Homo sapiens: one gene and its partners. The protein of the gene in region 5 purifies or fractionates together with the protein of the main gene of each other region. This does not show direct contact. Each region holds a gene or a part of one and is shown on either strand. Other genes may lie near its edges. The genes, in order: USP24, STAT5B, AKAP8, SLFN11, KDM6B, KDM7A and GART.

Region 1 (3,954 bases), on a different chromosome or scaffold from region 5:
AAGACAATTTTTCTCCTTCCAATGTAGCCCAGGGAAGCCAAAAGATTGGACACCCTTGGCTTAGATGGTGGAGTCAAGGGAACTAAAGATATGACCCCAGTGTGCCAATGCCAAAGGTGAGAAGAGAAAGCAAAGAAAGCAGGCCTTTAAAGAGGTAGAGGAATCCTCAAAGGTGGAAAGAAACAGGGATAGGATGCTGCCCAAGAGGCAGGGACAAAGAATCGGAGCCAAAGACTGCGGTAAAAATGTGGGAAGGTGATGTCCACGATGTTCGAACGAGTCCGTGGCCGAAGGAAGTAAGAGTCTGGGTTTCTGGAGGTTTTCATACAGAGAACTGGGATTTAGATTTCGGGCTGGAAAAATATATTTTGGACTCTCAGGGGCTTTCAGGGTAAGAGTTCGGTAGAGTTCAGTCAGCTTGGCGGAGACAGGTAGTCAGTTAATGTTGGAAGGAAAATTCGGACAGCTGGGAATTAATTTCAACGGGTTTAGGGTGATTTCGGCAAGGGCTGGCGGGGCTAGGGTCGAGTGTGAATTTCGTCTTGGGTGGTCCACGCGTCTGGTTTGGGCAGGAATTTCTGTGGGCAGCGAGGCGTATTCAGGCAGCGTTGCGGGTGAATCTGCGTGGGATGAGGGTGGATTTCCTTCAGGACTGCGGTGCATTTCAGGCCGGGGTGGAGGTGCCTCACAGCCGCGGCGCAGGGAATTCCCTCTAGGATGGGGGAGCGGGTCGGGCGGCGCCGGCCAGGGAGGGGAAGTCCAACGGGGGTTCGGAGAGGCTCGGGGGACTCGGACGGAGAGAAGCCGGGTCGCGGCTGCGGAGGCTCGGCCGGCCAAGGGATTTCCGCGACGTTCAGCGCTGCGAGCTGCGCGGCGCTGCGGCCCCTCCCGTCCCGGGGGAACCTGTTGCCGGCGAAACAGGCGGGCGGTGGCGACGATGGAGAAGCCTTCCTCGCCTCTGCCTGGCTGCACGGCAGCCCTTTCACCTTAGGCACGCTCCGCGGCGCGGCCCCTCCCTCCGCTCCTTCGTTTAAAACAAACAGAATACGCCGCCGCCAACCCTAGCCTGCCAACGGCGAGCACGGTCGCCTCCCGTGCCGCTTCCGGGAGCCGAGGCGCGGCCCCGCCGCCCGGGGAGGAGGAGGCGGAGGGGGAGGAGGCCAACATGGCGGCGCGCAGGGCTGGGCCGGGCCGCAGCCGCGCCTGAGCGCCTCACCGCACTAGCTCGGCTCGCAGGACCCAAGCCCGCACCCAGCCTGGCCCGGCTGCTGCGGAGCACCCGGGGCAGGAACGCAGGGGCCAACCTGGGCGCGGAGGCGGCGCGGAGGGTGCGCCGCGCGGCCCGCCAGGCCCGGGACCCGTAGCTTCGCCGTGCGCTGGCCGGGGCGGCCAGGAGGCCCAAGCCATGGAATCGGAGGAGGAGCAGCACATGACCACGCTGCTGTGCATGGGCTTCTCAGACCCCGCCACCATCCGCAAGGCCCTGCGCCTGGCCAAGAACGACATTAACGAGGCCGTGGCACTGCTCACCAACGAGCGGCCGGGCCTCGACTACGGCGGCTACGAGCCCATGGACAGCGGCGGTGGCCCCAGCCCCGGGCCCGGCGGGGGCCCGCGGGGCGACGGCGGAGGTGACGGCGGCGGCGGCGGCCCCTCCCGCGGCGGGAGCACCGGAGGCGGGGGCGGCTTCGACCCCCCGCCCGCCTACCACGAGGTGGTGGACGCGGAGGTGAGGAGGGGCAACCCCAGACCTCTGTGGGAAGCCACTGGGCTGGAGTTCCTGGGAGGGGACACACCCCGCTGGGCTTGGTGTGGGGAGAGAGGGCATTCGACTGGGGCTTTAGTGGGGGCGGGGCGGAGAGAGAGAGAGAAGCCCCAGGCTCCAGTTGGGAACCGAAGTCACTTGATTGGGGGTAAGTGGGGAGAGGGACCCATAGGAGAGGCGTGTGAAAGGGAATTAGGGATGCGCAGCGGAGCTGTGGGTTGGGGTGAGGAGGGGTCCCTTAGGCTTCCGGCTATGCACGCCGACGATGGGGAGGAGGCTCCAGGGCTATCATCCGAGATGGGAGGACAGACACTTGAGCATATAGTGGGAAGGATGCGTGCAGTAGGGGGTCGGAAATGGGGTACTAGTGCACTAGGCTAGGTCGGAGATTTTGTGGCACGAGGTTTCAGTGAAGGATTGGCGGAGGCACCAGGCTCAGAGTCAGAAAAAGCGGTGTGGGCCGGCCAGAGTAGTGGTCTTTGACAGGATCACAGGAAAACTGTTGGGGTTAGGAGTGAGGTTGGGGTTTTAGCCAAGGGTCGGAAAGGGGGGGCATTGAGTAGGATTTAAAATGAAGAGGGAAGGGGCCGCGGCCAGGAATGAGGACTTGAATAAAATCAGGTATGAGAGCAGTGGGGATTGCACTGAGAGGGCAGAGGTGGGAGGCCTGGGCAGGGGTGGGAGCTGAGGAGGGTCTAGGCAGGGATGGGGACTGGAATTGGAAGATAGAGCTGGCACCAGGTCTGGGTAAAGAGGGAGTACTGGTCATCGATAAGGTCAGAAATGAGAGAAAATTAGACCGGGGAAAGAGATGGTAGTCATACTGAGGGTGCTATGCAGAGGGGCGCGGAACAGGGTGGGAGCGCAGTGGGGGTGGAGGAGGAGTCTTGAGGCTAATGGCTTTGATCAGAGACCTCAAGTCTAGGTGGAGAAGACTATGCCTGTTTAGTTTGGGGTGTGAGCAAGGAACGTGGGGGAAGAAAACGGACTCTTCTATAATAAAGAAAAAAGATCGACCAGAAGCAGCAGTGCTTTTGAATAATTACTTTGCAGAAACATAGTAGCTCATGGCAGGAATTTTGGTCAGATTCGTTGGGTAGTTCATTTCAGGGGCCAGTAGAGCAGCTTGGCCTGACCACAGAAAAGCACAGATCTCAAATTATTGGGATTGCGTTATTAGGTAGAGATACGAATTTGGTTCGTTCTTAATGAAGAATTAAGCTTAGTGAAGCTAAGCCTTTTGAAACACTTTTTCCTGAGCAGTGTTATATCCTTTTAATTGTATGCTTTTGCAACAGTTCCTCGGGCTGAAGTAGCTTGAACAAGAAGGTGGCACTTAAAAAGAACAGGTTTCTGCACAAGATTTCTTTGGCTTCCACACTTAGACACAGTTGCTAGATTGCCCTCTGTAACCCACTAACTTAGCTGTATCGTTGACTAGTATATGGAAATAAAGATTGTTACTATTCCTAGTTTGGGAATTTTTTTAAATTCCCATATAATTGAGTAACCATACTTAAGTCATTTTAAGAAATCAGCTTCTCATTGGCAGTTCCTATCACTCCTCCCTCGTTCCTTCTAGTTTTTGACCCAGTTTTGAAATCAAGAAGAAAGCCGTTGCTTTTTCAGAAGGTGTTTGTATAACTCTGCAAAGCTCAGTGTATCCTCATTATGTGAGAAATGTGATTCTTTTTTTCTTTTGTCATACCTTTTAATTTCCTGTGATTGGAAAATCAATTTAAATTACAATGCTTGGTGCATTCATGTTAACATTAGCGCTAACCTTAGCTTACTGCCAGTACATGTAAGTACAAAGAATTGGGAGTGGCTTCTTACGTGAATGGCAGGCTAAGGAGTTTGGTTTGCGGTAAATTAAAATCCATAAAATCTCCATCTTTTCGAAGCAGTGCATCAAGTCCTCATTTCTCCTAGACCTGTGGATTTGGCCTGGGGGAGGGAAGCTGCACCGTTTACTTTTAAGAGTTCAAGAGGAGCTGGTGACTGAGGCTGCTTTACCCACGAAGCGTATTGGCAGAGGTTGGCAGGCTGAGACTTTCCTGACACACAGGAGCCTTTTGGAAACATTTAACGCAGAATGTGCCTCTGTGGTTTAATAATCTTAATGCATGCCACCTATGGAACTTCTTGGTCATCCTTGGTGTACACAGTGGGAAACTGAGGCTCTTGAT
Region 2 (4,305 bases), about 34 Mb from region 5:
ATATTAGAAATATTTTTCTTATTTTGTCACTTAGCTTTGGTTTCTGGCATTTTTTGGCATAAAGAAGTTTTAAATATTTATGTATACATATAAAAAGACATATGTGTATCTATAAGATGTATCTTCTTTTATTAGTTATTAAAGCCACTTATATCCTGTTCAAATTTACCAATAAAACTGGAATGTAATGTTAAGTTCTGTGCAAACTAGACCTCTTCACATTTGGGTAATAAAAATTCAAAACTAGCCAGGCTCAGGGGCTCACACCTGCAGTCCCATCTACTCTGGAGGCTGAGGTGGGAGGATCACTTGAGCTCAGGACTTTGAGACCAGCCCGGGCAACATAGTGAGACCCCACTCTTTAAAAAATAATAATAATAAATTAAAATAATAAATAAAATTCAAAACCATAAATTTTGAGAATATCACATTTTTGGACAAAATTTTAAATGTGTGTCTAAAGTAATACGTTTTCTTACTTAAGGACCCACTCCTGGCACACTTCACTCATCCTGGGCAACAGAGCAAGACACTGTCTCAAAAAATAAAAAAAAAAAAAAAAAAATCATTCCCTTAAAATTATATGCTTTTTGGCCCGGTGCAGTGACTCATTCCTGTAATCCCAATACTGTGGAAGGTTGAGGTGGGAGGTGTGGAGGTGGAGGTGGGAGGGATCACCTGGAGACATAGCAAGACCCCTGTCTCTATTTTTTTTTAACTATGTGCATTTTTCTGGTATTGCAAAGTCAAGGGATCTTGCCTCATCACCAACTCAGCATGTGAATTGTAGCCATGCCACTCAGGAAGCCAAATATTTTCTATTTTGTTTTGATACCTTCAACATGAGGAGAAAGGCCAATCTCTTCATACATTACAATGAAATTAGTATTTTTACTTGATATTTAAACTCACTGCAAGATAAACTCATTTGTAAAACATGACTACACTCAGAGTTTCCATATATGTAGTCAGGCACCACATAATGACGTTTCAGTCAATGACAGACCACATATATCACTGTGGTCCCATAAGATAATAAAACGTAGCTGAAAAATTCCTATCCTCTAGTGACGCTGTAGCCATCATAATGTTGTAATGCAATGCATGACTCACATGTTTGTGGCAATGCTGGTGTAAACAAACCCACTGCACTGCCAGTCATGTGAAAGTCTAGCACATACAATTGCGTGCAGTACATACTTGATAATGATAATAAATGCCTATGTTACTGGTTTATGTATTTACCATACTTTTTATCGTTATTTTAGAGTGTACTCCTTCTACTTAAAAAAAAAAGTTAACTGTAAAACAGCCTCAGGCAGGTCCTTCAGGAGGCATTGTTATCACAAGAGATGACAGCTCCATATGTGTTACTGCCCCTGAAGACCTTTCAGTGGAACAAGATGTGGAGGTGCAAGACAGTGATACTGATGACCCTGACCCTGTGTAGGCCTAGACTAATGTGTGTGTTTATGCCTTCACTTTTAAGAAAAAGTTTTTAAAGTTTTGAAAAATTAAAAAGTTTTTAAAGTTTTGAAAAATTAAAAATTATTTAAAAAGAGAAAAAGTAAAAGAATAAAAACATAAAGAAAATATTGTTGCACAGCTGTACATGTTTATGTGTTAAGCTAAGTGTTACTACAAAAGAGTTTAAAAGTGTAAAAAAGTAAACAGTTGGCCGGGCACGGCGGCTCACACCTATAATCCGAGCACTTTGGGAGGTCAAAGTGGGTGGATCACCTGAGGTCAGAAGTTTGAGACCAGCCTGGCCAACATGGTGAAACCCCGTCTCTACTAAAAATACAAAAATTAGCCAGGCGTGGTGGCACACGCCTGTAATCCCAGCTATTCGGGAGGCTGAGGAAGGAGAATTGCTTGAACCGGGAGGTAGAGGTTGCAGTGATCCGAGATCACGCCACTGCACTCCAGCCTGGGCCACAAGAGCAAGACTCCATCTCAAAAAAAAAAAAAAAAAGTAAAAAGTTTACAAAGTAAAAGTATTACAGTAGGCTAAGGTTATTATTGAAGAAAGAAACAATTTTCAAAATACATTTAATGTAGCCTAACCAGACAGTATTTTTAAAATCTACAGTAATGTACAGTAATGTCCTAGGCCTTCACATTCACTCACCATTCACCCACTGAGTTGCCCAGAGCAACTTCCAGTCCTGCAAGCTCCATTCCTGTTAAGTACCCTATATAGATGTACCATTTTTTATCCTTTATGCCATGTTTTTACTGTAACTTTTCTATATTTAGATATGTTTAGATACACAAATACTTACCCTTGTGTTACAATTGTCTACAGTACTCAATACAGTATACATGTTCCACAGGTTTGTAGTCTAGGAGCAATAGGCTTTATCATACAGCCTAGGTGTGCAGTAGGGCTCACCATCTACGTTTGTGTAAGTACCCTCTATGATGGTACCACAATGACAAAATCGCCTAATGCATTTCTTAGAACTTTGTCACCATGTATCATTAAGTGACAAACGACTATAGTTACGTAACAATAACCAAAGAAAAATACAAAAAGAGGGACTATTTACATTGTATCCTTACATATTAAACCTTCCATGCCTTCGGAATAAGAATCTAGTATCCAGTTCTCACTATACATAGCTTTCCCTCACTTTCTATCAGAAATGAGATAGGAGTCCCACCTTCCTGGCATCAGAAACAGATCACCAATCCTGCAAACAAATTCACAGGGTGAACTGTTTCATTTTTAAAGAGCTGTAGATTTCTGTAGATCTCTAATTTGCTACTTTTCCTAAACCTAAAAGATGACCAAAAGATTTTTAGAAACATTAAACAAAAAAACAGAATTAGCATTATTTCTAACAGAACATTTTACCTATTTAAATATACTGTAGAATGAATGCTATATTACAAAGCTGATGAATTCCAATTTTTAGTACTTTAAGAGATCAAGTGTTCAAGTTTCTTTTTATATAGGCTACAATGACATGTATGAATGTAACTTAACATTTAGCCCAGGTTAGATTTTTTAAAATCCCACTCCTTCAAAAACAGTGACTTGCCACCAGCTATAGGCTCTGAATTTATTTAATTTATTTATTTTTTTGAGATGGAGTCTCGCTCCGTCTCCCAGGCTGGAGCACAGTAGTGCGATCTCGGCTCACTGTAACCTCTGCCTCCTGGGTTCAAGTGATTCTTCTGCCTCAGCCTCCTGAGTAGCTGGGATTACAGGCGTGCACCACCACACCTGGCTAATTTTTGTATTTTTAGTAGAGACAGGGTTTCACCATGTTGGCCAGGCTGGTCTCCAACTCCTGACCTCACGTGATCCGCTTGCCTCGGCCTCCCAAATTGTTAGGATTACAGGCGTGAGCCACTGGGCCCGACCTAGGCTCTGAATTTTAGACAACAAAAAATAGTTTCTCACAAACTTTTTAACTTACTCTCACCTAAAGGCTGGAAAACCCCAGTGAAGGCTTTTAAAACTCATCAGACATAGAAAAAAAGAAGCAGCTTTAATTGTAGGATCTCACTGACACAAACATAAGGAAATTCTGAGTTATAGATACCTCACATTAAGCTTTTTCCACTGACATTGTAACTTCTGTCAACATTCAAAGAAAATTCAACCCTGGTCAAAGGTGACAGTTGACAATCCTGGAAGCTAACATCCTCTGTTTATTTGAACAAGTTTATACTCTGCACAGGGAATTGAAGTTCTTCTTGTCTGTGACTTGATCTCCCAAAGTTAAAGCACTACGCTTTAGGGTTGTGAATTCTGTTTCCAAGACTTAACTTCACAATCCACTCCCAAGGAAAAGTGCTGAGAGAAAGTAAGCATCATAAATGAAAAAAAAAAAAAAATCTGAGACTATTTTCTAATGGCCTTTGCAGAGCTCTAGACATACAATAGTTCAGTTGCCTTAAAAATTCGCCCAAATAGGCTGGGCATGGTGGCTTATGCCTGTAATCCCAGCACTTCGGAAGGCCAAGGCAGGAGGATCACCTGAGGTCAGGAGTTCGAGACCAGCCTGGCCAACATGTCAAAACCCCGTCTCTACTAAAAATACAAAAATTAGCTGGGCATGGTGGCACATGCCTGTAGTCCTAGCTACTCCGGAGGCTGGGCAGGAGAATCTCTTGAACCCAGGAGACGGAGGTTGCAGTGAGCCAAGATCGCGCCACTGCATTCCAGCCTGGGTGACAGAGCGAGGCTCTGTCTCAAGAAATAATAATAATAAATTAGCCCAAATAAGTAAAATTCTTAAATCTGTCTCAGAAATCATGACTAATGCTCTAAAAAGCTTTAATGCAACAAGA
Region 3 (3,708 bases), on a different chromosome or scaffold from region 5:
GAAACCAGGATTTGGAGGCCGCAGTGAGCTGCTGTGGTGCCACCGCACTCCAGCCTGGGCAACAGTGAGATCCTGCCTGTAAAACCAACAACAACAACAACAGAATTATGTAGTTTCACCAAGAGGTGGAAGGTGGAAGAGCCTCACTGACATTCAGACCAATTTAATGACAGGTCTTGGATTGACATATACATATTTTGAAACGAAATTTTGCTCGTCGCTCAGGCTGGAGTGCAGTGATGCAGTATCAGCTCACTGCAACCTCTGCCTCCAGAGTTCAAGTGATTTTCCTGCCTCAGCCTCCAGAGTAGCTGGGACTACAGGCACCTGCCACCACGCCTGGCTAATTGTGTATTTTTAGTAGAGATGGGGTTTCACCACGTTGGCCAAGATGCTCTCGATCTCCTGACCTTGTGATCTGCCCGCCTTGGCCTCCCAAAGTCCTGGGATTACAGGCATGAGCCACCACACCTGGCCTGATATTTTATTTTTTTGAGACAAATTCTTGCTCTGTTGCCCAGGCTGGAGTGCAGTAGCGCAACCTCGACTCACTGCAGCCTCTGCCTCCCTGGTTCAAGCGATTCTTCTGCCTCAGCTTCCCCAGCAGCTGGGATTACAGGTGTGTGCCACCACACCCAGCTAATTTTTGTATTTTTGGTATAGACAGGGTTTTGCCATGTTGGCCAGGCTGGTCTTGAACTCCCGACCTCTACTGATCCACCTGCGTTGGTCTCCTAAAGTGCCAGGAATACAGGTGTGAGCCACCATGCCTGGCCGGGTCTTGGATTTTTATAAGAAGAAAAAAAAGGTGTGGGGTAGGGGAGAGCCAGGTGCAGTAGCTCATGCCTGTAATCCTGGGAGGCAGAGGTTGCAGTAAGCCAAGATCACGCCACTGCACTCCAGCCTGGGCAACAGAGTAAGACTGTCTCAAAAAAAAAAAAAAAAAGAAAAAAAAAAGAAAATTAAGGAAATAAAGCAGTTCCACTAGTGATGTTTTTCTGCACTACTGTTTAATGCTACCGACATTTTTGCCTTAAGAGAACAAGCTTAAAAGGCATGCTCACCCTGCGATTAAGACGCATCTACACAACACAAACGGATGCTGAGCAGAAATGACCCAGAGGCACCATCGTCTTTTCAAGCAGTTTATTTCCATTTTCAGTTCTAATGTTGACTTTTTCATAAATATTCACCTGGAATCTCCACTAAGGCTCCTCATGAGCAGGGCCCAATTCCTAGAATGTGCTTGGTGAGTTAGCCCCTGGTATACAGTAGAGGCTCGGCAAATATTCTACAGCCTCCTTTCTAATGATTTCCCAGTGGCCAGCGTTTCCCAACATGTGAGATGTACAGTTCAAAAGGCCACAGGGAAACTGACACAGCAGGGCCATTTCAAAAGGGGAGGATCTTCCAATTCTTCTGATTTTAGGAAATTCTGTTGCGTGCTAACCTTGAACACATGCTAGCCTCCCTTTCTCAGATTTGGAAAGATCTAAAGTAATAGTTATTTCTCTAAAATGAAACATATATTTCATTTTATATATATATATATATATTACAGATACCTTCTATCTATGGCAATTTATGTTGGATTATTCCACCTATGGCAATCACATCAAGTTTTCTTTCCTTTTTTTTTAAGAGATGGGGTCTTGCTATGTTGTCCAGGTTGGTCTTGAACTCCTGGGCTTAAGCTATCCTCTCACCACGGCCTCCCGAAGTGCTGGGATTATAGGTATGCATCACCGTGCCTGGCCAAATTCTCTTTGTAAATACATTTGAGTGGTAGTAACTAATTTTAAAGGAAAAAAACCTGAAGTAATCTAGAGGTGGAACACAAATGAGGTAAAATATTAGAGAACTGATTCAGCAAGGACTAAAGATTGGGACGCAATGCCCTCTGCACAGTCTGGTTCTTGAGGTTGCGGTGGGTGTGTTTCCAGTGGCGTAGGTCGGTCAGATACTTCTGGCCTTTGGGAGTGCGTGGATGTGACGCGGTCAGTGCCACATGTGAACCAGGTGCTGCGAAGTCCTGTGAAAGTCACACACCATATGGTGCACTACAAAGGTATAGGTTAAAGGCTGAAGCTTGAAACATACAAAAAAAAATCCTCTATAGAGCAAGATATATTCCTAGTATTCAGCTGTTCCCAACCAAATAAAAAAAAAAATTAAGGAAAAAAATAAAAAAGGAAGCATTCCATCAGTGGCTGTATTGAACAAGTAATGTATCATCAAGATATAATCACCCAACCTTTATTATTCCAAGTGCACTACTGTCAAGAGACATGTTACAGCCGCTAAGGACAATGTACTTCAGCTTTGAAACCTGGGCAAGAAGCCACACGACTGCATGAGACAAGCCGTGAGAGGCACTGCTCAGGAGGAAACGCTGGGTCTCTTCACCAAAATTAGATTACAGCATATTCTGGGAGCACACGCCCTTGTACTGCTTACAAACCAAGGGAGAAAGACCAACGCATCCATCATCCCAACGCCTTCCCTGGAACAGGGAAATGAGCATCATTCTGTGGGAACAGCGTCTTTAGACTCTGCATCAGTTTGTTCCACTTCAGCATCCGCGGCAGCTGGGGCAGGAGCAACTCTGGTTTGGGCACTTTCTGCCTCTGCTGCCATTGTCTCGGCGCCATTTCCAGCCTCTGCAGCCTCACTTCTGGCCTTGGGGACGCCCTTCTCATGTGCCGTTCCACAGGGCACCTGCTCTTCCAGCAGCTGTTCGGCTTGAGGATCACTACCGGCCTCCGCTGTGTCCGTGGGGCCTTCGTCCTCAGCCGGCTCCCCGCTGCTCTCTGGAGCGGGCGCTCCTTCCCCATCTACGGCCCTCACTGCTGCTGTAATCACCTCTGCTAAGACGTCCGCGGCCACCTCCTCAGGTGTCTCTTTCTTATCCTCACCTCCTAAATTGTCATCTCCTTCCATTTCTGGATCAACAGTTTCACTGGTGAAAGGGTCCTCACCCTGGCCAAAGAGGAAACACCGGTCAGCGTGGTGTAAGCAGAGCTCAGGAGGCCCATGATTGCGGGGATGTCAGCTTTTCAGAACCAGCAGTCCACAAGGGAAACACTTCTGTAAATTATGCCACAGGAGTGAATCCTACATGTTCTCAGAGCCTACAGATTCAGAAAACACCTCGGGGAGATATTCTGCAATTTTTTTTTTTTTTGAGATGGAGTCTCGCTGTTGCCCAGGCTGGACTGCAGTGGTGCGATCTCGGCTCACTGCAACCTCCGCCTCCTGTGTTTTTAGTAGAGATGGGGTTTCCACCCACCTCAGCCTCCCAAAGCGCTGCGATTACAGGTGTGAACCACCATGCCCGGCCCATTCTGCAATTTTTTTTTTTTTGAGACGGAGTTTTGCTTTGTTGCCCAGGATGGAGTGCAATGGCGCGATCTCAGCTCACCACAACCTCTGCCTCCTGGTTTCAAGTGATTCTCCTGCCTCAGCCTCCTGAGTAGCTGGGATTACAGGCAGGAGCCACCACGCCCGGCTAATTTTGTATTTTTAGTGGAGACGGGGTTTCACCATGTTGGGCAGACTGGTCTGGAACTCCAGACCTCAGGTGATCCGCCTGCCTTGGCCTCCCAAAATGCTGGGATTACAGGCACGAGCCACCGTGCCTGGCCTGCAATTTTTAATCAAGCATGTACCAGCGAGGAAAAGTTCACAAGCCCAGCCTTAACTTGATGT
Region 4 (4,305 bases), about 28 Mb from region 5:
AAATATAAATTTGATATGTAAATGAATGCAAGGACCTTGGATAAAGGAAAAAATGAAATTCTAATGGGGGCAGTCATTATCTATTAATTTAATGATCCTTGACAGATATTTACACATATATAGGACATTTATGTATCAATTATAGTGCCAGATAAGCCACTGACTTACTGCACAGATTTAAGCAAGTGGTTTTCCCTCTCTGGGATTCTACAAAGACAGCAATGGATTCCTAAGCAAAGCCTATCATGGGAACAAGGGATAAGAGTAGAGAAAAGGCGTTGACCTTGGTCCTGAATTATTGTGTTTGTGCTGCTACGTGATTGTCCTAAACCCAAAACATGGGAAGAAATGCATAATCCATCTCCATTTTAAATGTTTTGTTTTCCATCTTGACCTAGATTTATATTGTTTTCTCTTATTTACAACCACCACTCCCGTGGAAAATCTGGCAAGGGCAGGCAGTTTTTTGGCTGCTCTCTGGTGCAGCATATGACTAGTTTGACTAGATAAAAGGTTTCCAATCTAGATGAACATAAAATCATGAGGGTAGTTTGAGAAAAGTACATATTGCAAGCCACTCTCCCCACATATTCCAATTTGTTATGAGTGGAGTAGGGACTCAGATATGTGTCCTTTTAAAAATGACCAGAAACACTGATGATCAGCCAGATTTGGGAACTACAAGAACAAATAGTCTTTAAGGGAAATAATGTTCCTGGATTCTATGTGTGGTCCTGCCTTAGCCAGTGGGGTCAGTAAGGGTTCATTTCTAAACCACTTATCACCAATAGGATTGTAACATCATCACGTCTTACAAATGGGTTTGCAGAGCACTTTCAGGATTTTACAAAACAAATATTATAGTTTAATCTCCCTTTATCCTAATATAGAAACTGGCTGGTGTTGAGAAGACAAACCATAATTACCTGAAAATAAAAGTTGCTGGAGTTCCTTTTTATGTTCCAGGCCTTTCTTGGAGTACACTGGTCTGCTAAGGGGAGGCCCACTAGATAGACTCAGCTGACATTCAAAATCTTCAGACAACTGTAGAAGATCTTAAGAAAGAAAATTCATGTTATTCTGACGTGTTAATCTCTTCATACTGAAAGAGGCTCTATCAGTAGGTGGAATGTGTGACTTTCTAAATAGTTTGACTTGAGAGATAATATCAAAATAACTCTCCTCTCACTCACTTACTCTAGATAAGTGCCTTTATTGCATATCAAGGTTGCCAAAACCCACCCTGAAAAGCCATTATTTGGAAGTTTAACTGTATTTCTCCATTCAGTATAATTCTTCATTCTCTGTATCTGGTTAGCATTTTGTTTGCACACCTGTTACGTTACCTAGCTCATTCTTTTAGTACTGCTGTCTGTGCATGTATCTTGTTTTACATCCCCTCTCCAACTGCCACCACCTCTCCTGAACCCAACTCTCAACTCTGTTCAATATCATCTCATCACTGATTTGTAATTACCATTACTCACACTTAAAAAATAGCTTAGGGCTTGGGCACAGTAGCTTGTGCCTGTAGCCTCAGCTACTCAAGAGACTGAAGTGAGAGGATCACTTGAGCCCAGGAGTTCAAGGCTGTAGTGGACTATGATCACGCCACTGCACTCCAGCCTGGGTGACATTCTGACACCTATGCTTATTCCTGAAGTTAAAATGAGAAATTGTGTGAAATCAAAGGACATTATAGAGTGCATTAACTTTTTCATGTGCTTTGGAGATTGGAGTCAGCTTTATAATATCTCCTTTCCAAGTACACATCCACTTTACTCAGAAGATTGTGTCCCAATTTTTATGTTCTCTCTGTGTTTCTCCAGGCTTAGGGTGTTCTCAGTTGTTCTAGAGACACTGAGATAGCCCACTAGCCTGCCAAATTATAGCATGATGGGGTAAATATAGAAACATGTTTGGGAAGCAGTAGTGATGCAAGGCAAGAAATATTTCAAACTGTTAGGAGCAGAGGGGTAGAGCAGATTATACCTGCTGGCATAGAGCATAATGGGTACATGGTGATGAGTGGAAGAAAAGGCAAAATATCAACAGGATAAACAGAGACACAGGACAATATGAAACGGTACTGAGGACAAACCTTGAATACACCCCTACCCCCGTGACCCTCATCACCCTGAAATACTTTCTGTTCTTTTGTTTTTGAGACAGGGTCTCACTCTCACCCATGCTGGGGTGCATTGCTGTAATAATGGCTCACTGCAGCCTCAAACTCCAGGGCTCAAGTGATCCTCCCACCACAGCCTCCGAAAGTGCTGGAATTATAGGTGTCAGCCACCATGCTTGGCCCTGAGCTACTTTCAAATTTTCCTGAGCTACAAAATCAACAATGTCCTCAAGGATCAAGAGATAAACTACATCTTAATTTAGGCAGGGTACTATTATAAGGTGATAGCAAACTTCAATGCAAAGGGCTTTTTTTTTTGAGACAGAGTCTCGCTCTGTCACCCAGACTGGAGTGCAGTGGTGCAATCTCGGCTCACTGCAACCTCCTCCTCCCAGGTTCAAGCAATTCTTCTGCTTCAGCCTCCCAAGTAGCTGAGACCACAGGCACGCACCACCACGTCTGACTAATTTTTCTATTTTTAGTAGAGACGGGGTTTCACCATATTGGTCTTGAACTCCTGCTCAGGTGATCCACCCACCTCAGCCTCCCAAAATGCTGGGATTAGAGGCATGAGCCACCAAGCCCAGCCCAAGAAAGCAACCCCAGAAAGCAGTACTATCTATGCTGGTGATGGTTTAATAAACAGATCTAGTTGAGAAGAGATCCCTCGTTCATAGCCAACTGCCAGTTTCTGTTTTATAAATCTTCCTGCCATGGACAATTTCAAGCTCCTAATGGATTATCACTAAATACAGAGTTGGAAAGCCATGCACAGTAGCACTCCATTTTATAGTATTCCCACCACACAGATACAATAGATGTAAATAATCTCTCAAGCAAAGATAATAGTGAAATGTAGCAAATAATTAGGAAGTGGTGAGTTTGAATTTATTACATTTGTTTCTGATACGATTTATTTAGGTGCAAGTATATACAATCTAATTTTTAGTAATAACTATGTTTAACAACTAGCTCAAAAATTCCTGAAAATTTAATAATTGATTCTAAAGCCAGTAAGAGCCATTCCAGTACACCATTGCAAGGGTGGCCATTCTCAAATAATTTTCTGTTCAGTTACTAATGTAGAAAATTGGCCATTTATAGACATGTGAGTTAGGTTTCTAATCACCCAACAAAATTTTCTCATGTATGAAAAGTAGAATACTTGGGGATTCAAAATAAAGTGTTCAGTGGATGTAAGATGTTCAAAGTCATAGGCAGCAAAGGAAAATTTAATATGGGAGGTCCCAAGGATGTAGAAAGGACAGGGAGGGAGGAGCTTTCTCCCTCTTACCTGGATCTGTGTCTGTCATCATGCCTACCCATTTCTCGGTTGTCAGGCTGCAGACGTACTTGTCCTCCACTATCCATGAATTGGGAGCTTCTGAGAACACTGCACAGCAGAAGGGATTTACTCTGATCATGCAAGCATAGCCATAGAGCTCTCCCCTTTTTAACACATTCACAATTTTGAGTGTGAAGGTTATCGGGCGTTGGGGTTGGCAAAAATGAACACAAGGTAGTTTGTATATGGCTTGTTCTATTTTCCTTCTCAAAGAGTCAGGGTCAACATTTTCTTTTGCACATCCCAGGACTTCCCTACTCTTATCATCCACTCCAATAAAAAGATAGCCTCCTCCAGTGTTTGCAAATGCAGGGACGTATTCTGGAATTGTCCTTTTTACATATTCTTGGAAGTGTTTTGTAGAGAACTGTTTAAACTCTACTAACTGAGACTCAGGAAAAGGCAGGATTTCACCATATTCAAGATAGTCTTTTTGGAAAATTAGGTCAGCAGGATCCGAGTTTGGGTCAGCAGGATCCGAGTTAGGGAGCTCTTGGTATACACCCTTGTGAATTTTGTGAAAAGGTCCTTCTTCCAAGATTTTTGGCTTCCTTTTGGTCTTCAGGAAACAGAATGCCTCTCTTGAGTCCATGGAACGCACAGAGGTCTCAGATCTACGGTATAATGAAGAACTGAGGCTGCAAAGGCGGGGCTTGACAGAGCGATCTTCAGGGAAAGGGCCACTGCTCCAAGATTTAACAAAAATGTAAAAACACCTTCCTTGTTGCTTGGTCTCAAAGAAAGCCTGCAGATCTGAAGACTGAATAAGCTCTCTCAAAGACTGTTCTAAATCCAGTCCCATCTCCACGGGATGCTCAACCTTCTTGGCCAT
Region 5 (4,080 bases):
GTCTCTGCAGGTGAGATGAGAACGTGGCCAGAGGCAGGTCCTGGGACGGGGCTGCGGTGGGAGGGCTCTCGAAAGGTCTCTGACCCAGGCCTGCCTACCCTCTGGCTGAACAGGAGGAGAAGGAGAGTGAGGATGAGGAGTCAGAGGAGCCAGACAGCACCACTGGAACCCCTCCTAGGTACTGTGCAGGTGTGCCCCTTCTGTTCCTGCTTCCTTCCCCTCCCTCTGCTCTCCACCAACCTGTGCTCTTCGCCCCAGCAGCAGCGCACCAGACCCGAAGAACCATCACATCATCAAGTTTGGCACCAACATCGACTTGTCTGATGCTAAGCGGTCAGTGGGGCTGAGGCCAGGGAAGTTGGGGCAGGAGTGCTGCTAGGACCTCGTGGCGGGGGCGGGGTGTAGCCTCTCGTCGCACTTCCGCACCGCAGGTGGAAGCCCCAGCTGCAGGAGCTGCTGAAGCTGCCCGCCTTCATGCGGGTAACATCCACGGGCAACATGCTGAGCCACGTGGGCCACACCATCCTGGGCATGAACACGGTGCAGCTGTACATGAAGGTGCCCGGCAGCCGAACGCCAGGTGCGCTCCACGCCTGTGCGCGCTGATGCTGGAAGCGCGAGAGGAGGGGCTGGCGGCGGCGCTCAGCCGTCAGCCAATGAGGGCAGAGGGCGGGGCTATCGGGGATCGCAGTTCCGACCTGGCCAGCCATGCCGTTCTCTGTCGACCCCTGCAGGCCACCAGGAGAATAACAACTTCTGCTCCGTCAACATCAACATTGGCCCAGGCGACTGCGAGTGGTTCGCGGTGCACGAGCACTACTGGGAGACCATCAGCGCTTTCTGTGATCGGTGCGTGCCGTCCTGCGCAAGTCAGACTGCCGCGTCCCCGCCCTCGGTCCCCAGTTCCCACCTGACCTGTGGCCACCCCGCAGGCACGGCGTGGACTACTTGACGGGTTCCTGGTGGCCAATCCTGGATGATCTCTATGCATCCAATATTCCTGTGTACCGCTTCGTGCAGCGACCCGGAGACCTCGTGTGGATTAATGCGGGGACTGTGCACTGGGTGCAGGCCACCGGCTGGTGCAACAACATTGCCTGGAACGTGGGGCCCCTCACCGGTGAGAGGGTGGGGCAGGTGTTGGCGTGGTGTGGCGCCTCAGCGGCAAGGGCCTGGGAGGCTGGGGCTTGGAGAGCCGCCAGCAGTGAGGGAAGGGGCTTGGGCCTAGGTGTCTGGGGGCTGTTTGAGAGTCCTGTTGTGATCGCCTTTGGCCCGCAGCCTATCAGTACCAGCTGGCCCTGGAACGATACGAGTGGAATGAGGTGAAGAACGTCAAATCCATCGTGCCCATGATTCACGTGTCATGGAACGTGGCTCGCACGGTCAAAATCAGCGACCCCGACTTGTTCAAGATGATCAAGTGAGGACCCTATTTGGGTGGGAGCCCACCTCCACTGACTGGTCCCTTTTCTTGTTCTTCCTGTCTGACTCCACCCCATTTTTACCTCTCTCCATCCTTGTCTGCCTGTGCCCCGAGTGTTACTGTGTTGGGGAGGCTAACTAGGTCCTTGCTGTCATGACCTTTTCTAGTGGTCCAAATAGACAAAAGCCACAGGAAACTTCGCCTATAACAGATGCCCAGGACAGAGGATGTGACCTAGACATGAAGCGGGGAGGCCCCTAGGGGAGGGCCCTGGGGCTGCCCACCCCTCTGCCCTTGCTCCAGCCCTGCCTCAGGCCTCCTCCTTGCCGGTGGTCTCAACACAACCCCACTGCTCCCCAGGTTCTGCCTGCTGCAGTCCATGAAGCACTGCCAGGTGCAACGCGAGAGCCTGGTGCGGGCAGGGAAGAAAATCGCTTACCAGGGCCGTGTCAAGGACGAGCCAGCCTACTACTGCAACGAGTGCGATGTGAGTGGGCCGGCTCTGCTGCTCTCCCTGAGTGTCCACAGTGGCCCTCCCTCCCCCTGACTGCACTGTCCTCCCTGCCCCAGGTGGAGGTGTTTAACATCCTGTTCGTGACAAGTGAGAATGGCAGCCGCAACACGTACCTGGTACACTGCGAGGGCTGTGCCCGGCGCCGCAGCGCAGGCCTGCAGGGCGTGGTGGTGCTGGAGCAGTACCGCACTGAGGAGCTGGCTCAGGCCTACGACGCCTTCACGCTGGTGAGGGCCCGGCGGGCGCGCGGGCAGCGGAGGAGGGCACTGGGGCAGGCTGCAGGGACGGGCTTCGGGAGCCCGGCCGCGCCTTTCCCTGAGCCCCCGCCGGCTTTCTCCCCCCAGGCCCCAGCCAGCACGTCGCGATGAGGCCGGACGCCCCGCCCGCCTGCCTGCCCGCGCAAGGCGCCGCGGGGCCACCAGCACATGCCTGGGCTGGACCTAGGTCCCGCCTGTGGCCGAGAAGGGGGTCGGGCCCAGCCCTTCCACCCCATTGGCAGCTCCCCTCACTTAATTTATTAAGAAAAACTTTTTTTTTTTTTTTAGCAAATATGAGGAAAAAAGGAAAAAAAATGGGAGACGGGGGAGGGGGCTGGCAGCCCCTCGCCCACCAGCGCCTCCCCTCACCGACTTTGGCCTTTTTAGCAACAGACACAAGGACCAGGCTCCGGCGGCGGCGGGGGTCACATACGGGTTCCCTCACCCTGCCAGCCGCCCGCCCGCCCGGCGCAGATGCACGCGGCTCGTGTATGTACATAGACGTTACGGCAGCCGAGGTTTTTAATGAGATTCTTTCTATGGGCTTTACCCCTCCCCCGGAACCTCCTTTTTTACTTCCAATGCTAGCTGTGACCCCTGTACATGTCTCTTTATTCACTTGGTTATGATTTGTATTTTTTGTTCTTTTCTTGTTTTTTTGTTTTTAATTTATAACAGTCCCACTCACCTCTATTTATTCATTTTTGGGAAAACCCGACCTCCCACACCCCCAAGCCATCCTGCCCGCCCCTCCAGGGACCGCCCGTCGCCGGGCTCTCCCCGCGCCCCAGTGTGTGTCCGGGCCCGGCCCGACCGTCTCCACCCGTCCGCCCGCGGCTCCAGCCGGGTTCTCATGGTGCTCAAACCCGCTCCCCTCCCCTACGTCCTGCACTTTCTCGGACCAGTCCCCCCACTCCCGACCCGACCCCAGCCCCACCTGAGGGTGAGCAACTCCTGTACTGTAGGGGAAGAAGTGGGAACTGAAATGGTATTTTGTAAAAAAAATAAATAAAATAAAAAAATTAAAGGTTTTAAAGAAAGAACTATGAGGAAAAGGAACCCCGTCCTTCCCAGCCCCGGCCAACTTTAAAAAACACAGACCTTCACCCCCACCCCCTTTTCTTTTTAAGTGTGAAACAACCCAGGGCCAGGGCCTCACTGGGGCAGGGACACCCCGGGGTGAGTTTCTCTGGGGCTTTATTTTCGTTTTGTTGGTTGTTTTTTCTCCACGCTGGGGCTGCGGAGGGGTGGGGGGTTTACAGTCCCGCACCCTCGCACTGCACTGTCTCTCTGCCCCAGGGGCAGAGGGGTCTTCCCAACCCTACCCCTATTTTCGGTGATTTTTGTGTGAGAATATTAATATTAAAAATAAACGGAGAAAAAAAATCCTGTTTCGCTAACGGCTGGTGGTAGCAGGTTGAGTACCGGGAGGGCTGCAAGACCGTGATTGATGGGGAGGACTGCGCAGACCCTGGCGAGGGTGAGCCCCTCCCCGGAGGCGCCTGTGGAATGTCCAGGGCTCTGGTCCGCTCCTCGGGATGGGGGGTGCCTAATCCTAGAGCCGCATTCCAGGATAAGGGGGGTGGGGAGAGGCTGGGCCGGGGGAGGGGCAGGAAAGAGGGCTATAAGGGCAGCGGCCCAGGCGGGCGGGATCCAGGCGGGCCATGGCGGATGTCCCCGGGGCACAGCGAGCGGTTCCTGGTGACGGCCCAGAGCCCCGGGACCCCCTGGACTGTTGGGCCTGCGCTGTTCTTGTAACAGCCCAGAATCTGCTGGTGGCTGCCTTCAATCTTCTCCTGCTGGTGCTGGTGCTAGGGACCATCTTGCTACCCGCTGTCACCATGCTGGGCTTCGGCTTCCTCTGCCACTCTCAGGTGAGCGTGCGC
Region 6 (3,674 bases), on a different chromosome or scaffold from region 5:
TTTCACAAAACAAGCAGATTTGTTCAGATTTAGATTTCAACCAATTTCATGAAAGCAGACACAGGAGATGCAAACTGCTTTTGTGGATTCCGTTCTAGGGGCGGAAGCAGCTCTCAAGGTGTGTTTAAGTGTGCATGCTTTGGCGTCCCTGTTCTTTTGCAGATATTAGGGGGAGGGAGGGTATGGTCTTTGGTCCTTCTGGTCACTTGGTTTCTGGGACTCTGAGCTCAGTTTCTCCTCGGGAACAGACTTCCTGCCCACTTGTCTCCTTCCTAGGCTTCTCTTCTGCCCTGGAAGTGATGCCTGCAGGGCTCCTTCCTTCCTGGTCCAGAGTTCCTCTCTCATCTCCTCTAAGGACAGATCTTTTTCCTGGTCCGTATCATCCCTGTCTCTCAGACCCTGAGTCCAAAACTGAGCTCATCTTCCTCACGGAGTGTGCACTTAACACTCTCACCTTCACCAGCCAGCCAGGCCACCACACCCCTGGCTCTCACTTGCCTTTTGTGTCTCACACAAGCTCCTTGAGGCCTGGGACTTGGTTTTGCTCACTCCTGCAGCACTAGTGCTAAAACAGTGCCTACTGTACTGCAGGTGTTAGGAAATATTTGTGGGATGCCTGGGCAGGGGCTGTGAGTGTGCTGAAATGTTCATTAGCCAAGTACCCACATCCGTTTCTACGTTTCAGCCTCATGTTGCCAATTACACTTTTGTATTCTTCCCTCTCTTTGAGCAATCACTCATCCCCAGCAATACTGCTAATAAAATAAGACAATTACTTTTCACATTGAAGTCTTCAGAAGTAGTAAGGAGCAGACGCTGAACCCAGTTTTTCATACTTTTAAATAATTTCCCATGATTCAATCAGCAGAAAAAGGGAACAAAGTCAGAATTGGATATAGAATTCAGATTCTTTTTCTTTCAAGGACGCATTTTATACAATTTTCAACATTTATACTTTCAAACAAAATGAGCAAAAAATACACTAAGTGCTAAAAAAATCAAAACAGAAGTAATACAATTTTAATTTCAATATTTTAAAATACAGAAATTGGAAAGAATACTAAATACAACTTTAAACAAGTCACTTGTCCTCCCCTATAATAATCAATGTAAGCTACTTAAAGACTTACAAATTTAAAGTAAAACAGAAACAAAATAAATACTGTACACTTTCCCTGCCTGCAGGCAAAAGATGGGAAATACTGTTATGAATCAGCAAAGAAATGCTCTTCAAGCTTCAGCACCCCACCTCCCAGCCACACCCCACGCCATTGTCACACAGTGGGCTTCCGGACTGAAAGGACACACATGTCACACACATTGACTGCCTATACAAACAAGACGAGACGCTATTCCGCAGACACCCCCAACAAGAAGAACAGTCCCCTCGGACCGTGGGCATAAAAACCAGTAAGAAAAGTCAGTCAGGCTAGCAAAACGTTACTACAAAACTAGTAAATACCAGAGCCAACAACTGTCCCCTCTCCAAAGTTCACAGATTTGAAACCTCTAAAACCAATACTACCCCTCCCCATCACCCCCCAAAAAAACTTGCTGAAGCACTGGCAAAGTTAGACATTTCACAGTAAATGTGAAAGTTCATATTATATAATCTCTTAAAATGAACCTTTTCACCCTCTTTCCACAGCATGAAACTGTTATGGCTTAATTTATATTAAAAGTAGAAAAGTCTTTTCTGAAGGAAATACCATCTGCGAAGATGCATTTCCTGATCAGTGCTATTTCATACCTAACAACTGTATGACTTGCTTTTGCAGTCAGAAGCTGTTTTTGGAAAAATTGAGGTTATAGCTTTTGATTCAGTCTAACCATAAACTGTAAGGCCCTTAGTTTGGTTTAGGTTTCTTTTGCAAGATAAAATAACCTTGGGGTTCACTTAGTAAGTTACACCTCAGGTCCCTGACTGTAATGTGGAAGTTATACGTAGCTCTGTAAAAATAAAAGGTTACTTATGAATCTTAAAAGGAAGAAATAGTTCTAGGTAAGGAATTAACTCCTCATTATATTTTACATTTAATGCTGGTAAGTTTTACCAACCAAAATACACCAAAGAAATATGAGAGTATGTCTGGGTTATTTTATGCCTGCAAAGTATTATATATTCCAGCACTTATGATCATTGTTTTGGTGAAAAATCTTGGAGGAAAACAGCTGACATTTTGAAAAAGAAATGGCCAAAATGAAACTGGTTGGAGACAAGTTTTACCTTTATAATTAAGCTCCATTTATGACTACTTTCTGAAAGAAAGAGAAGTGAATTCAGAGTGTCACAGGTCTTGCATAGGTAAACTACTTGGAGATCAAGGGCTACGTGGTAGCCAGGGTTTATTAGTGAAATAGTGCAGAGCAGATAAACTTGGAAGAATCACTGAATACAGTTTCGAAAGGTTTTAACAACAAAATGTAATGTTATACTTGTTAAGACAAAGTCTTAAGACACTAGAAGGGGCACCAGGGGGAAGGGGAGAACCTAAGGATATTGCAAAAGAGTATTATTTTCTCCTCTCAGTTAAAATGAGGAAAAAAATACTATAGAAGAATAAAATCACAGTCACAACAAGCTCATTGCTTTGGAAATAGACATTTGCTTCCTAATGACCTTAATTTTTAAAATTTATGTTAAGGATATCAAATATTTGACTTTACAGCATGAAAAAGAGGGAAGGGCTTCTAGGAAGGCTACAGTATTAAGATTACATTACGTTCAACAGCAACAGAATGAGAAAATTAATTCTTCCCCTTTCTTTCCACCTGGTTTCAAGGAAGCACATGAACATCATCTCATAGGGCAAGCCGAAAACTGGGGGCTGTTTTAGGAAGCAAAGTATCAGAGGCCCCAGATCCACTGTGTCTCCCCACGCAAATCACTGTCCACTCTGGGTTACCTGTGTCTCCTTTATTTACCAGCGACACTCTGTCTAGGCTAAAGATCTGATGATCCAGCTTCCCAAGACTGCTTTAGAGGAAGGTCTAGGACACCACCAAGACTGGTGAGCTCTAGCTTCTCTTTATGTGGCGAGCAATTAACAATATTTAATGAGAAAAATGAATTTTTGATAATTATGCCTAGCAGTAGCATACTGGGTCACATGATATTCCAATCAACTCTATCTATAGTCTTACTGCTGCAGAGAGCATCTTTTGAAAAAGGCAGAAAGAATCTTGTCTGTTGAAGATGTCTGGTGGCGTCTCCTTTCCTACACTGGTTTCTTTCTACCAAGCAAACTGTTGGTACCCAACCCAGAGCTGTCTTTGTGCATTCTCACCTTTCTAACCACCTCATTCTCCCCACAAGTTCCCTGGGGAGTTGCTAAGTCATTTTAATTCCATGACTTCCTTCACCTTTATCTAGTACCTGAAGAGTATGCTGAATCTGTGGGGATGGTACTTTCCTAATTCTTCAAGAAAAACCTAAAGCCATCTTTCAGTTAAATCATCTTAACGTACTTGAGGATACACATTCTCACTCTCTTATCCATAAACAACTTCATTTTTCTTCCACTTCAAGCACGAAATCTGATTTTAATCCAGCACCTTGTTGGAGATTCCTCGGATTTTTAAAGTAGCATGCCCTGGGCATATATTTGATATAAAATAAACATCATGAATAGTATTAGTTTTCATTTAAAAATATATATAAAGGTGCATTAATT
Region 7 (4,305 bases), on a different chromosome or scaffold from region 5:
GACATAATCAAATCAACTGGGAGAATGTAATCATTTAATAGATTAACATGTAACATGTTAATAGGTTAAACATGTATATACATACCACTTGTTCATAAGAATGGCTGAAACAAGAGATGCCCTTCCTGAGTATGAGAGATTGCACCATGTGCTCAAAGAATTGATTAAGAAAGTAATTAAGGCTGGGCGTGGTGGCTCACCCCTGTAATCCCAGCACTTTGGGAGGCCGAGGCGGGTGGATCACAAGGTCAGGAGATCGAGACCATCCTGGTTAACACAGTGAAACCCCGTCTCTACTAAAAATACAAAAAAATTAGCTGGGCGTGGTGGCGGGCACCTGTAGTCCCAGCTACTCGGGAGGCTGAGGCAGGAGAATGGCGTGAATGCAGGAGGCAGAGCTTGCAGCTAGCCGAAATGGCACCACTGCACTCCAGCCTGGGCGACAGAGCCAGACTTTGTCTCAAAAAAAAAAAAAAAAAAAAAGGAAGTAATTAAATACTAAAGGACCAGCCAGACATGGTGGCTCATGCCTATAATCCCAGCACTTTGGGAGGCTGAGGTGGGCAGATTGCCTGAGGTCAGGAGTTCAAGACCAGCTTGGCCAACATGGTGAAATCATGTCTCTACAAAAATACAAAAATTAGCCAGGCATGATGGTGGGTGCCTATAATCCCAATTACTTGGGAGACTGAGGCAGGAGAATCGCTTGAAATCAGGATGCAGAGGTTGCAGTGAGCCGAGATGGTGCCATTGCACTCCAGCCTGGGCAAGACTCTTGTCTCAAAAAAAAAAAAAAAAAAAGTAAAGGAGCATACATATCCTTTTGAGTTTAACATGACAGATGAGAAATACTTTAATATTAAAGAAAAGAAAGCAGAAGACTGGGTTTGGCTTAAGCAGGGCAAAACTTACAGTAACCAAGCATTGCTTTGGAAAATATTCCTGTTAAATATAAAACCCAAATCCATTCACAATGTATATCAAAGTTAATGAATTAGCAAAGTATAGGATCACTGACCTGATCTGGAAGTGGCTTTTGCTAAAGGCTGAATTTTCTTGACCAGCATATTTCCAGCTGCGATATCTACTCCAGATTCCTTGTAAGTCAAACTCCTAAAGAATTAAAAACAAGTCATCACCTAAACGTCAGGGAAAATTATTTTAATCTTAAAATATTATTTAAAGCAGAAGATATCCCAAGTGATTTTCACATACCCTAAAGTGCTTAAATTTTTTTAAAGTCAGTGCCTGGGCCACATCTATACAGATTCTGATTTAACTGGTCTAGGGCAGGCTCTGGGAATTGAAATGAGTTTGAACCATCTCCCCAGTTGACTTGATTACATCATCCCTGAGAACCGCTATTCTAACTCAATCACCTATTTCTTCTACAAGTACTTCTCACAGGCTGCTAAATATACTGATTCTTTTAAATGATTTTTTATTAAGGTAGAATATACACAACATAAAATTCAGCATCTTAACCATTTTTAAGTGAACAGTTCAATAGTATTGAATACAATTATAATGCTGTGCACCCGGCACCATCATCCATCTCCATAATCCTTTATCTTGTAAAACTGAACGTCTGTCCCAGTTAAATAACTCCCCATTCCCCACTACCCCAGACCCTGGCAACCATCTGTTTAAAAGTAGATATACTGACATTTTGCTGCAACTTTTCTCAGTTCAATTTTGGTATGAACAAGAGAGGAATGCCTAATCAAGTCAAAAAAGTGAAAATTAGATTTGTAAAAACCGTACACAAGTATCCCTAAATAATTAAACTGAGTTCTTAATTTCAGTAATATATAACTGTATCTGTTTCCTAATAGCTGAGGACAGTAAACACTATGACAAAAGCAAAACCAGGTAAAGATACTCAGTGCATCATTTCCTTCTGTATAGGACCCACAAGTCGGAGCAGTACATTTAGAGATCAAATTTTTGAATGACACTGCAGATTTTGTAGTCTTGACTTGCAAAAATGAGAACTCTGGCCTGCTGGGATGCAGTGATACATGAAGAAATATGTGTTTTTATAGAAGTGTCTTTAAAAAAAGCATACAAAAACAAAAAACAAAAAAGCTGCCAGAATACAGTTGAGTGCATTGGCAGTTAACTCAAATAAAGCCAGCAGCTCTGGGTCACTCTCAGATAGAAAACAAAGACTGATGTTAAAAAACCTTTTCTCCAGTAGCAACTAACACTGTGGCATTTCCATTTTTTCATCTTTATAACTTAAATAATTCAGACTAGAATTGAGATTGCAGTCCCTTGAAATAGGTCATTTCAATGGAATCTAGTCATTTTTAAATGAAAAATAAATTTTTAGCCTGGTATTTTGATGTTCTTGATTCTTGGAAAATCTGTGTTTAAACTTTAAAAAAACCTGCCTCTTGGTAACAGTATAGCTTGAATTACGTTGGTAAAAAAATTTTGTCTTAAAATTTATTCATTATCCGTAAATGAACTTCACGAACAATAGCAAATGTGATATATTTTTAAGAAATCAGGCCGGGCACGGTGGCTCACGCCTGTAATCCCAGTACTTGGTGAGGCTGAGGCAGGCAGATCACCTGAGGTCAGGAGTTCGAGACCAGCCCGGCCAACATGGTGAAACCCCATGTCTACCAAAAACACAAAAATTAGCTGGGCACGGTGGCAGGCACCTGTAATCCCAGCTACTCAGGAGGCTGAGGAAGGGGAATCACTTGAACCCGGGAGGTGGAGGTTGCAGTGAGGCGAGATCATGCCACTGCACTCCAGCCTGGGCGACAAGAGCAAAATTCTGTCTCAAAAAAAAAAAAAAAAAAAAAAAGAAATCAAAACACCCACATTTCCAACTAAGACTTTATTGATTTTACAAGTCAACAGTTTGTACATACCAACAATGAATCAGTAAGAGGTCAAAAAATACATTTTAGTAATAGATACAAACGCAGTGATAAAATGAGACTGTCAAACTTTACAGTATAATCAAATCAAATTACAAAGTTAGATGACCAGTATTCTCATCTTCAGTTCTTTGATAAAACCATGAACTATGTTTCAAATACAACACTATGTGATAACGCAAGGAATAAAAATCAGTATCAGGCCAAGTGCAGCGGCTCATGCCTATAATCCCAGCATTTTGGGAGGCCAAAGCAGGAGGATCACTTGAGCCCAGGATTTCAGACTGGCCTTGGCAACATGGTGAAACCCCATCTCCACAAAAAATACAAAAAAATTAGCCAGGTGTGGTGGCCTGTGCCTGTAGTCCCAGCTATTTGGGAGGCTGAGGCATGAGAACTTGGGCGAGAGAGGAAGACCCTGTTAAAAAAATTAAAAATATAAAATAAAAAAAATAGAAAACAAATAAAAATCAGTACCACTGTGATTTTGCTAAACTTTCCAAACTTACGCTATCATGAAGTTTTTTCCATTTGAGTATTGCTATAACCAGTTTTGATTCAAACAAAATACAAACCAAGACTGTATCACTCCCACAGAGAGAAAAGAATACTGAATGACTTATAGGGTTAATGAAATGTTCTACATAGCCATTTAGGCCAGTTTCTGAAATGGCACTACAGCTAACTTGCTTAGAGTTTTACCTGGGCTGCTGGAGGAAAGCTATGGCACGAAAGCCGACGTCTTTCCTATAAATTGCTCCCTCAAACTTTATAGCAGCTAGTCCTTTCTTGGCTTCCTCAAGGGCTGATATGAGATTTTCCCGGATGGCTGTGACTGCAAGAACTCTACCCCCATGAGTTACTACTTTGCCATTTTTGAGGGCAGTGCCTGCATGGAACACCTCCAGTCCTAGAGCTTGAGCCTCAGGAAACCCTAGAAGAGAGCATATTTGACATATGATTTCAAATAGCAACAGTATTTCACACCGTGAAGTGATTTACGATTTCCACAAGTTTCTTTTTTTTTTTTTTTAACTTGGCTAGGTGCGGTGGCTCATGCTTATAATTCCAGCACTTTGGGAGGCTGAGGCAAGGACTGCTTGAGTCCATGAGTTCGAGACCAGCCTGGGCAACAGAGCAAGACCTCGCCTCTACATAAATAAATAAATAAATAAATAATAATAGCCAAGTGTGGCGGCACACACCAGCTGAGGTGGGAGGATCACTTGAATTTGGGAGTTTGAGGCTGCAGTGAGGTGTGATCGCACCACTGCTCCAAACCCAGCAACAGAGACCCTGTCTCCAAATAAATAAATACATAAAAATTAAAGATCTTTCTCTCACTTAAAAGAACCTTCCCTATCAGACAGGTCTTCTTTTATTTTTTGAGACGGAGTCTCACTCTGTT

The links.
Region 1: the proteins of KDM6B (region 5) and USP24 purify together in Homo sapiens (affinity purification with mass spectrometry, with the first as the bait; one large-scale study listed by BioGRID). This does not show direct contact.
Region 2: the proteins of KDM6B (region 5) and STAT5B purify together in Homo sapiens (affinity purification with mass spectrometry, with the first as the bait; one large-scale study listed by BioGRID). This does not show direct contact.
Region 3: the proteins of KDM6B (region 5) and AKAP8 purify together in Homo sapiens (affinity purification with mass spectrometry, with the first as the bait; 2 studies listed by BioGRID). This does not show direct contact.
Region 4: the proteins of KDM6B (region 5) and SLFN11 purify together in Homo sapiens (affinity purification with mass spectrometry, with the first as the bait; one large-scale study listed by BioGRID). This does not show direct contact.
Region 6: the proteins of KDM6B (region 5) and KDM7A purify together in Homo sapiens (affinity purification with mass spectrometry; 2 studies listed by BioGRID and IntAct, with this or other methods). This does not show direct contact.
Region 7: the proteins of KDM6B (region 5) and GART purify together in Homo sapiens (affinity purification with mass spectrometry, with the first as the bait; one large-scale study listed by BioGRID). This does not show direct contact.

What each region holds. Positions count from the first base shown.
Region 1 is NC_000001.11:55,212,565-55,216,518, reverse strand, and holds the start of USP24 (ubiquitin carboxyl-terminal hydrolase 24), read left to right. Parts: upstream 1-1,154; 5' UTR 1,155-1,405; coding exon 1,406-1,729; intron 1,730-3,954. UniProt on the Homo sapiens protein: Ubiquitin-specific protease that regulates cell survival in various contexts through modulating the protein stability of some of its substrates including DDB2, MCL1 or TP53.
Region 2 is NC_000017.11:42,266,001-42,270,305, forward strand, and holds part of STAT5B (signal transducer and activator of transcription 5B), read right to left. Parts: exon of another isoform or gene 2,286-4,305; intron 1-2,285. UniProt on the Homo sapiens protein: Carries out a dual function: signal transduction and activation of transcription. Mediates cellular responses to the cytokine KITLG/SCF and other growth factors. Binds to the GAS element and activates PRL-induced transcription.
Region 3 is NC_000019.10:15,352,392-15,356,099, forward strand, and holds the end of AKAP8 (A-kinase anchor protein 8), read right to left. Parts: intron 2,980-3,708; coding exon 2,524-2,979; 3' UTR 994-2,523; downstream 1-993. UniProt on the Homo sapiens protein: Anchoring protein that mediates the subcellular compartmentation of cAMP-dependent protein kinase (PKA type II).
Region 4 is NC_000017.11:35,359,317-35,363,621, forward strand, and holds part of SLFN11 (schlafen family member 11), read right to left. Parts: coding exon 3,423-4,305; intron 1,056-3,422; coding exon 927-1,055; intron 1-926. UniProt on the Homo sapiens protein: Inhibitor of DNA replication that promotes cell death in response to DNA damage. Acts as a guardian of the genome by killing cells with defective replication.
Region 5 is NC_000017.11:7,851,217-7,855,296, forward strand, and holds the end of KDM6B (lysine-specific demethylase 6B), read left to right. Parts: coding exon 1-10; exon of another isoform or gene 11-105; intron 106-113; coding exon 114-178; intron 179-240; exon of another isoform or gene 241-261; coding exon 262-333; exon of another isoform or gene 334-431; coding exon 432-580; intron 581-734; coding exon 735-849; intron 850-932; coding exon 933-1,120; intron 1,121-1,278; coding exon 1,279-1,420; intron 1,421-1,783; coding exon 1,784-1,910; intron 1,911-1,993; coding exon 1,994-2,164; coding exon of another isoform or gene 2,165-2,281; coding exon 2,282-2,305; 3' UTR 2,306-3,580; downstream 3,581-4,080. Other genes in the region: TMEM88 (transmembrane protein 88), read left to right, coding at 3,859-4,068. UniProt on the Homo sapiens protein: Histone demethylase that specifically demethylates 'Lys-27' of histone H3, thereby playing a central role in histone code. Demethylates trimethylated and dimethylated H3 'Lys-27'.
Region 6 is NC_000007.14:140,083,857-140,087,530, forward strand, and holds the end of KDM7A (lysine-specific demethylase 7A), read right to left. Parts: 3' UTR 890-3,674; downstream 1-889. UniProt on the Homo sapiens protein: Histone demethylase required for brain development.
Region 7 is NC_000021.9:33,521,170-33,525,474, forward strand, and holds part of GART (trifunctional purine biosynthetic protein adenosine-3), read right to left. Parts: intron 3,832-4,305; coding exon 3,600-3,831; coding exon of another isoform or gene 3,596-3,599; exon of another isoform or gene 2,840-3,595; intron 1,114-2,839; coding exon 1,019-1,113; intron 1-1,018. UniProt on the Homo sapiens protein: Trifunctional enzyme that catalyzes three distinct reactions as part of the 'de novo' inosine monophosphate biosynthetic pathway.